Linked DNA regions of Homo sapiens: region 1 is reported to be linked to region 2. The links are microRNA targets in miRTarBase. Many come from high-throughput screens and were not tested one by one. Region 2 holds a microRNA gene; the other region holds the end of a gene's coding sequence.
What was found. The annotated mature microRNA hsa-miR-4485-3p reads UAACGGCCGCGGUACCCUAA and lies in region 2 at 3,236-3,255, opposite strand. An mRNA with a match to its seed (bases 2 to 7 or 8) in the 3' UTR can be bound and repressed. Matches are read on the target gene's strand: a 7mer-m8 pairs with bases 2 to 8, a 7mer-A1 pairs with bases 2 to 7 and ends in A, and an 8mer does both.

Region 1 (4,391 bases), not on the chromosome of region 2:
TCTTACTGTAAGATCCTTCTCACCATCTCACCAAAGGAATGTCTTTAAAGTATCAGTCCTTCTGCCTTGTTTCCTCAAATTTGCCCTTGCTTACTGAGAGAACATCATTCCCTTTTCATTTTTCTTCTCAGAAACTTGATATTGGGCTAGAATTAGTACACAAAGGATACGCAATTGAGCTTCCTGAAGACATAGAAGAAAACAGAGCTGTCCCAGACATGTTGAAGGACATGGTGAGCTATTGTAGTTATATAGGGTGCTGCTTCCAGGCAAATCTAGCACATAGACACTAAGGGCTTCTAGTCCTGATACTGTGTTAGCTTTCCTAAGGACTTTGAGCTCCTCCAGTAGTTGACCAAAGGAGCATTTTGTCCCTCTTGGTAGCCAAATGCAACTGCCTTAACCAGGTCCTATGAGAAGAATGAAAGGGTGGCCTCTTTTTTCCTAAAAGCCAACATGTTCCTCCTTTTTTCCTGTTTTCATCCACTCAGGCCACAGAAACAGATGCCTCTCTCAGCACGTTGCTCACTGAGACCAAAAAGAGCTCTGGAGAGATAACACATACCCTGTCCTGCCTCAGCTTATCAGGTACAAGCAGTATTTCCTCCCTAGAGCATCTTTGGAGATTAACTTTTCTCATTCAGTCTTTCCAGAGTAGGGAGGTTAATTGAAGGCTTGGTTCCTAGTCAGGTCATTGAGTACCAAGAGGTCCATTTTTCTTTTGAGCCTCGCTGGCATTGCCTGCTAGAATAGGGCAGTGTCTAACTTTCTCCTTCTTATTTATCTTCAATAGAAGCTGCTTCCATGTCTGGTGATGATAACCTTGAAGATGACTACTTACTCTGAAGTCTGGGCTTCAGTTTGCTCAGCCATCTGCTTTGCTGTGTGAGTGCAGCTATCATCTATCTGTAGCAACAGGAAAGTAATGAGGGCGACAGTGGGGCACTTGCTTTGATTCCCTCTTTCCCATGCCCTGTCTTAATATACTTCTCTGCAGCTGCTTTCCTGCAGCTTAACTTGCTCTCAGATTGAGCACTTTCAAGCTTTTTGTGTATTTCTGTCTTTGGCAGGATTTGGCATAGGAATTGGTGCATGGAGGAGAGGAGTGTATGATAAAGGATCCATGCAGTCCTTCCTTTATTACACATATAGTCTGGCTTGCTGTGGACCAAATTAATATTCTCCTCCCATCAGACTACAAAAAAATTGGACTACCACGCTACAAGTGTGTCTCCCCCATTCCACCTCCGGATCCCTCCCCAACCCTCCAGTGTTTGAATACTGCTGTGTTACTTCCAGGCCGTTCAACGTCAGGCTCAGTCCCCTCTACCAGTCATGATTCACATTACTACTAGGCTGTATCCTTTTTGAGGCTGGGAAACAGTCAGGCTTTCGTCATTGGAAGTGATTCTGCAGACTTCTGACTCACCTTATCAGGTGACTCTGGTTAAGGAAAGCTTTTGAGTGGTGAACTCAAAGACTCCAGTTGAATCAGGAGGCAAAGGCAAAAATTAGCATAATTATATTTAAAAGCCTCAGGAAGTGGGAAGAGAATACTGCCTCCCAGCCTCAATTGCTGATATGTTATTGGAGACAGGCTTTTGAAACTGCTCCAGCTATTTCTCTGTAACCTTTAGTTAAAATATAAGTAGAAAGGAGACAGGAGGCTCAGGAAATTTTCTAAATTGCTAGTATAATATCTATATGTATACACACATATACACCCGTGGAGAGAGAGGAAGAGTATACAGTCCTGTTTGAATCATTTGGAGGATTTTTTTGCTGAATAAAGTTCTCAAGAAAATTTTCTAAAACCAAATTCTGATTGAATCACAAGGTGGAAGCAGGCTGTGAGCCTAAATCTGGTGAAAACTGCCAACTGCCTCACAGAAAGGATCACATCTATGAAACAAGTGTCCCTCCCATATACACATTCATATTCTTTCTCTAAAGTCACTTCAGAAATAACCATTCACTGGCTGGGCACGGTAGCTCACACCTGTAATCCCAGCGCTTTGGGAGGCTAAGGCAGGCAGATTACTTGAGGCCAACATGGTGAAACCCTGTCTCTACTAAAAATACAAAAAATTAGCCAGGCATGGTGGCATGCACCTGTTGTCCCAGCTGCGTGGGAGGCTGAGGCAGGAGAATTGCTTGAACCTGGGAGGTGGAGGTTGCAGTGAGCTGAGATCATGCCACTGCACTCCAGCCTGGGTGACAGAGAGAGACTCTGTCTCAAAAAAATACAAAAATACAAAATACAAAAATTAGCTGGGCGTGGTGGCAGGCACCTGTAATCCCAGCTATTTGGGAGGCTGAGGCACAAGAATCACTTGAACCTGGGAAGCGGAGGTTGCAGTGAACCCAGATTGCACCACCACACAACCTTGTCTCATAAAAAAAAATTCACTAGGAACCAGAACCAATTTAGGTTTAGGCTGTGTGAGTAAGACCCCACCTATACTATTCAAAAGAAAAGGCCCAGATTAAGATTCTAGAAACCTGGATTCTAGGAGCAGCTCTGGTAAGTAGCTCATGTAGTCTTGGAGGAATCTTTAAGGAGTAGATCTCCACTGTAAACTTTTTGCAAAATTTTAACGTGTTTCCTTATAGCATCTTTCTGACAGTACTGTGAGGCTCAAATGCGAGGCTTGAAGTACTTGAGGTGCTTGAAAGTAAATATAAATGTATAGTAATGTGGATGGTAGAAAAATGGCAAGTGAATTTTTTTTAAGGATAAAGCAAGATAAACTAGAAAATTTAAAACTAGCACATAAGGATGCCTTACACAGGTCTTTTTTTTAAATTTAGGGATTAGTAACGTCTACCTCTATACTACATGGCAACTATATTTTCTCACAACCACAATTCTCAAAATTTATTTTCTCAGAAAAATCTCAGTATTAGCCAGGCACCGGTGGCTCACACCTATAATCCCAACACTTTGGGAGGCCGAGGCGGGCAGATTGCTTGAGCTCAGGAGTTCGAGACCAGCCTGGCACCATGCTGAAACCCGTAAATACAAAAAAATTAGCCAGGCATGGTGGTGTGTGCCTGTGGTCCTAGCTACTTGAGAGGCTGAGGTGGGAGGATCGCTTGAGCCCAGGGAAGCAGAGGGTGCAGTGAGTGAGCCAAGATTGCACCACTCCACTCCAGCCTGTGTGACACAGCAAGATGCTGTCTCCAAAAAAAGAAAAGAAAAATCTCAGTCCCAATTAGCAGAAAGGCTCTAGTGAAGGAACAGTTCTGGTGAGTAGTTCAGGTACTCTTGGAGGAATCTTTAAGGAGCTTCCATTTATTTGATGTTTCAGATGTTGCCTGCAATGAACTCGCTGAAGCATGCTCAGCCCTGGAACTGGTGCTACCAGAGTTCCGTAGGGAACCTTTACTCTTTAGAGGTTCCCTGATATAAATCATTCATAAGACTTCCTACCCTGGAAAATGAGTAATGTCTCATTCTTACCTGCAGTTTGTTACTATGTATAAAAGTCTTTTTCTTTAATATGCCTTTAAGTCTTACCTGTTTACAGCCCATTCTGATGGGTTCTTTGTCATTCTGTTAGTATAACCCAGTACTTTTCCTGCTGCCTGGAATGCCCTCTTCTATGTTACCTATTCTGTCCGTTGAGATCCCCCAACTTGGGCCAAAGCCAAGAGATCTATGTGCCTTCTCTGGTTTTCTCCACATCTATAGCACCTCAACTGAAATATATGGATAAAAACAGCCTAACAAAGCTCAGTCTTTCTGAACTAGGAAGTTCACTGATTAGTGCTCAGTAAATGGTTAGAATAAATGGGGAAATAGTTTGGGGCATGGAGGAAGGCAAAGGGAACCAAAAATCCTTAGGTACTTTCCTCCGTAGTTCAGGTCCCTGTGATCTTTTCAGTGAATTTAGCTCTGTTAAGGTGTATATCCCACTCCAGTCAACCCTATTACCCACCCCCCCAAGAAACCGTGAACACTTGATGATTGCACTACCCTTTATTCCTAGGATGGAAAGTGTCCTGAATCACATCCCGGGCCCCTGATTCCATGTGTCAAGGCTTCCAGCCCCTCAAAGCGTTGGAATAAGCATGTTCAAGGAGGCTCACTGGGCAGGTGGCCAACATCCCTTTCAAGGGGATACACCATAAAGATGACATTGTCCAAGGGAGGGAGGGCAGGGTGATCTGGTCTGACCACCTCAAAGCCCATGTAGCTGAAGGCCCGCAGCAGGGCACCTGTGAAAGGATAGAACAAATGATTAGAACATGCTTTAAAACTCAATACATGTATGCCCCCAGATTTGATTTCTTCCACTAGGGAGTGGCCCTGGGAAGCAGTGTAGTGCAGGCATATAGGATGTGCTTTAGTCCAACAGACCTAGGCTCTAACTCTGGTTTTAACACTT
Region 2 (4,391 bases):
CGGGCCCTAGATAGTCCCTGGCACATAGCAGGCGCTCAATATTTCTTGAATAGATGAACAGTATCTAGACTGAATAAAAATCTAGACTATGGGACTCAGACATCTGTCATTTTTTAAAAAGCCTGATGAGGAGCTGGCACTGAGACCCATGTTCTGATGTACGTTAGGTCCCCCGACACCTCCCTGGGTGATGTCACTGGTTGGGAAGAGGTTGCATTAGGGGCTGTGCTCGTCGGATGATGATGCAGCAGAGTTAAAGGCTTAAGATTCTTTTCATGCGCAGTGTGGTGCCTTGGATTGGCCCTCCCCAGGAACATTGTCCTTGTCAGCTCTCAGGGGCTTCTTAATTAGAGTCTTACCTCCTTCCCCTTTGCCTTTCCCATCCCCAGCAGCTGCTGCAGACCTTATCTTTCCTCTCTGATCAAGGAAAGCACAGCCAGGAATGAAGGGCTGTCTGAGGATGACTGAGGTTGTCAGGGTGACATCCTTGAGGACACAGAGGCCAGCAGGAATTTTAAGAGTTCTGTGGGGATAAGATGTCCTGACCAAAGATCTGCTTCAGGGGGACTAGTCTGACTTGCTGTGACTGATGTCAAAGCTGCCCACATGGCTATAGAAAGTGAATCAAAAGTATATAGTTTCATTTGTATTTCTCTTGGTCCACAGGAAAAGCAAAAGTTTCTGGGACAAAATTATTATAAAGAAGGACCTGAAGGAAATGATATTCGAAAGACAAATGTGGCTCAGATCCGGATGGCATTCCGATATGAGACCTTATGCAATGAGCTCAGCTTCCTGTCTGATGCTATGAAATCAGAAGAGATCACCGCCTTGACCAACTAGGTCCAGCATTTGACATGCATTTTAACTTTTTGGTTCAATTTCAAGTCTGCTGTGGCTAATAGTGGTCAAGATTCCGAACTAGGACTTTCCTCTGTGAAGAGGATGCCTCTGAAGAAATTTTAAACTGGTGATTTTGGTTGCACTGCTCACTTTAAGAGTTAACATGCTCACTTGTTAGTATTTCTGAGTAACAAGATGGTGACTTCTCCTTGGGGATCTGGGAGCTGAGCACTTGTCTATACTTGTTCCTAATTTTCCAAGTATTTCTCTTGAAACTGCCAGTGCCTGAACTGTTGGGGCCAGGATTTTCCCTGGTCAGATGCCAAGTAACATGTGGTTTTCTGCCATACTTTTCTCCATTGGCCCAGGTAGGCTAATTGGTAGTTGTTCATTTCAGCCTCTGGATGGCTGGCTGCCTTAAACACAATCAATTTCAAAGCTCCATTTCATAAAGGGGCTACTTTGAAGGAGTTAAGATGGAAGACTTCCTTCTTGACAAATTGTGTTTTTAGTGAATTTCTTAAACCGTTTTATTTAGCCCTCCTTCCCTCTTTCTAGTTGGAAGCCAAATGTACTCATGAAAACAGCCACTCCTATTCTGAGTCTTGGTTTCTTCACCTAGAAAGTGAGGGTTTGGACTAGATGAGTGGCTTTCAGGGTGTTCTGTGAATCTCCTCATGAATACTTTAGGGTAGGGGAGGGAAGGGAGTGAGTGATGCTCAGGGGCTGTCAAAGTGACTGCGTTCATCAGTTTTACACTGGGGCTGCTACATAATATTTTCATTTGAACGAAGAACTTCAAAAAGCACAGGACTAGATGATCTCTGTTCCTTTTGGCTCTAATATGCTACAACTGTAGGCCAATTATCACTTTACCAATTAAGAGTTAGGCCAGATAAGTGAAATTTAACTTAAGGGCACACAGCTAATAAGTAATAGGCCTAAACTGGATTTCCTTATTCCAAATCCTGTCTTTTCCCCACTATTCCATTAGACCCCACAAATGTTAGTTGTGTGTGTGTGTGTGTGTGTTTTTAATCACTGTAACCGGATGCATTTTTTTAAGGCAAAATTTCTCCCTTATCTACTATGATGACTTCAGAAGATACAATGGTCCCAGGGGCCAAGTAGAAAGCATTTTTAAAGATTAATCTGAATTAAGCTTTATCAGTGTACTCTTTATCTGTGTTACTAGTGCCTGGTATGTAGTAGGTGCTCAATAAATGCATATTGAATAACTAAGTGAATTTCTTTTGGCAACTTTTTAAGGACATGTGCTCTTAGTACTTAAGAGGCTGCTCAAGGACCTTCCTATCTATTTCTGTGGTCAAATTCAGACTACAGGAGGTCTTTTTGAATCATTATAGTTAGAAGAAGAATCCAGTTTCTGCCTGTGAACTTATTTGACTTTAGATTGTCTCATCTTGTGACTTTATAATGCCTGTCCCCTCCACTGGTCAATTCAGCATATGGAAGTATAAATGCAGTCTTTTTACTAGGCAGATATATATGCTATCTTACAGCTAATTATGAAATTGAATGAAAATCCATTGTTATCTTAGGGATTAGTTTTGAAAAGCCCCCGTTTATATACATTTGCCCTAACATAGGAAGTATTGTGTAGTTTCTCATTGTCATTTTATCTGTATCAAGTATCTTTTTTTAAATTGTTAAATAAAGTCAGCTAGGACTGTGGCTCAATAGTTTAAAACTATTTAAAGATAATCATATTTAAAGCAAATGTTAAAGATTTTTACTCTTAAGATTGGGCACCATGAAAAGCTATCAATAATAATAGCTAATTTATCTTTTACTAAGACTCCGACATGAATGACATTCACTAGGAAAACTCAAAATTTTCAAACTGAAGCTCACCAGACCCAGAAGATAAATCTTCCTTTGTTATTTTCTCTAACTTCTACCCTGTTATAGTTCATGAGCAAAGCTATACATGTTCCTTTCCTTTTCCCGGGGTATTATTTTAGTCTGTCCAGCTAACACCTTGTTGATATGGACTCTAGAATAGGATTGCGCTGTTATCCCTAGGGTAACTTGTTCCGTTGGTCAAGTTATTGGATCAATTAAACGTGGTAATTCGCTTTGACTGGTGAAGTCTCGGCATGTGTTGCTCGGAGGTCGGATTGTGCTCCGAGGTCGCCCCAACCGAAATTTTTCACGCAGGTTTGATAGTTTAGGGCCTGTGGACTTGTTAAGTGTTGTTTGCGTTAATGAATTAAAGCTCCATAGGGTCTTCTCGTCTTGTTATACTATGCCCGCCTCTTCACGGGCAGGTCAATTTCACTGGTTGAAAGTAAGAGACAGCTGAACCCTCGTGGAGCCATTCATACAAGTCCCTATTTAAGGAACAAGTGATTATGCTACCTTTGCACAGTTAGGGTACCGCGGCCGTTAAACGCATGTCACTGGGCAGGCGGTGCCTCTAATACTGAGAATGCTAGAGGTGATGTTTTTGGTAAACAGGCGGGGTAAGATTTGCCGAGTTCCTTTTACTTTTTTTAACCTTTCCTTGTGGGCATGCCTGTGTTGGGTTAACAGTGGGGGTAATAATGGCTTGTTGGTTGGTTATAGATATTGGGCTGTTAATTGTCAGTTTAATATTTTGGTCTGATGTAGGCTTATGCGGAGGAGAATGTTTTCATGTTACTTATACTAACATTAGCTCTTCTATAGGGTAATAGATTGGTCCAATTGGGTGCAAGGAGTTCAGTTATGTGTTTGGGATTTTTTAGATGACAGGTGTCGAGCTTGAACGCTTTCTTAATTGGTGGCTGCTTTTAGGCCTACTGTGGGTATTAAATTTTTTACTCTCTTTACAAGGTTTTTTCCTAGTGTCCAAAGAGCTGTTCCTCTTTGGACTAACAGTTAAATTTACAGGGGGATTTGGAGGGTTCTGTGGGTAAATTTAAAGTTGAACTAAGATTCTGTCTTGGACAACCAGCTATCACCAGACTCGGTAGGTTTGTCGCCTCTACCTACGAATCTTCCCACTATTTTGCTACATAGACGGGTGTGCTCTTTTAGCTGTTCTTAGGTAGCTCGTCTGGTTTCGGGGGTCTTAGCTTTGGTTCTCTTTGCAAAGTTATTTCTAGTTAATTCATTATGCAGAAGGTACAGGGATTAGTCCTTGCTGTATTATGCTTGGTTGCAATTTTTCATCTTTCCCTTGCGGTACTATATCTATTGCGCCGATTTACAATTTCTATCGCCTATACTTTATTTGGGTAAATGATTTGGTTAAAGCTGTTCGGTAGTAAGGTGGAATGGGTTTGGGGCTAGGTTTGGCTCAGAGCGGTCAAGTTGAGTTGAAATCTCCTAAGTGTAAGTTGGGTGCTTTGTGTTAAGCTACACTCTGGTTCGTCCAAGTGCACTTTCCAGTACACTTACCATGTTACGACTTATCTCCTCTATATAAATGCGTAGGGGTTTTAGTTAAGTGTCCTTTGAAGTATACTTGAGGAGGGTGACGGGCGGTGTGTACGCGCTTCAGGGCCCTGTTCAACTAAGCACTCTACTCTTAGTTTACTGCT

Region 1: miRTarBase lists TDRKH as a target of hsa-miR-4485-3p. Seed matches in the 3' UTR shown: 7mer-m8 at 1,299-1,305.

Annotation. Positions count from the first base shown.
Region 1 is chr1:151,770,907-151,775,297 of GRCh38, reverse strand. It overlaps TDRKH (tudor and KH domain containing), which reads left to right. Exons shown (of 13, transcript NM_001083965.2): 11 at 132-233; 12 at 492-588; 13 at 794-1,804. The coding sequence ends at 846. It overlaps OAZ3 (ornithine decarboxylase antizyme 3), which reads right to left. Exons shown (of 5, transcript NM_016178.2): 5 at 3,968-4,221. The coding sequence ends at 4,079. Among named protein-coding and RNA genes, the nearest start is that of OAZ3, 6.4 kb to the right of the region's middle.
Region 2 is chr11:10,505,042-10,509,432 of GRCh38, forward strand. It overlaps MIR4485 (microRNA 4485), which reads right to left and starts at 3,285; the gene lies at 3,229-3,285. It overlaps AMPD3 (adenosine monophosphate deaminase 3), which reads left to right. Exons shown (of 15, transcript NM_001025389.2): 15 at 667-2,538. The coding sequence ends at 843. It also overlaps the pseudogene MTRNR2L8. RefSeq lists a silencer at 4,081-4,375.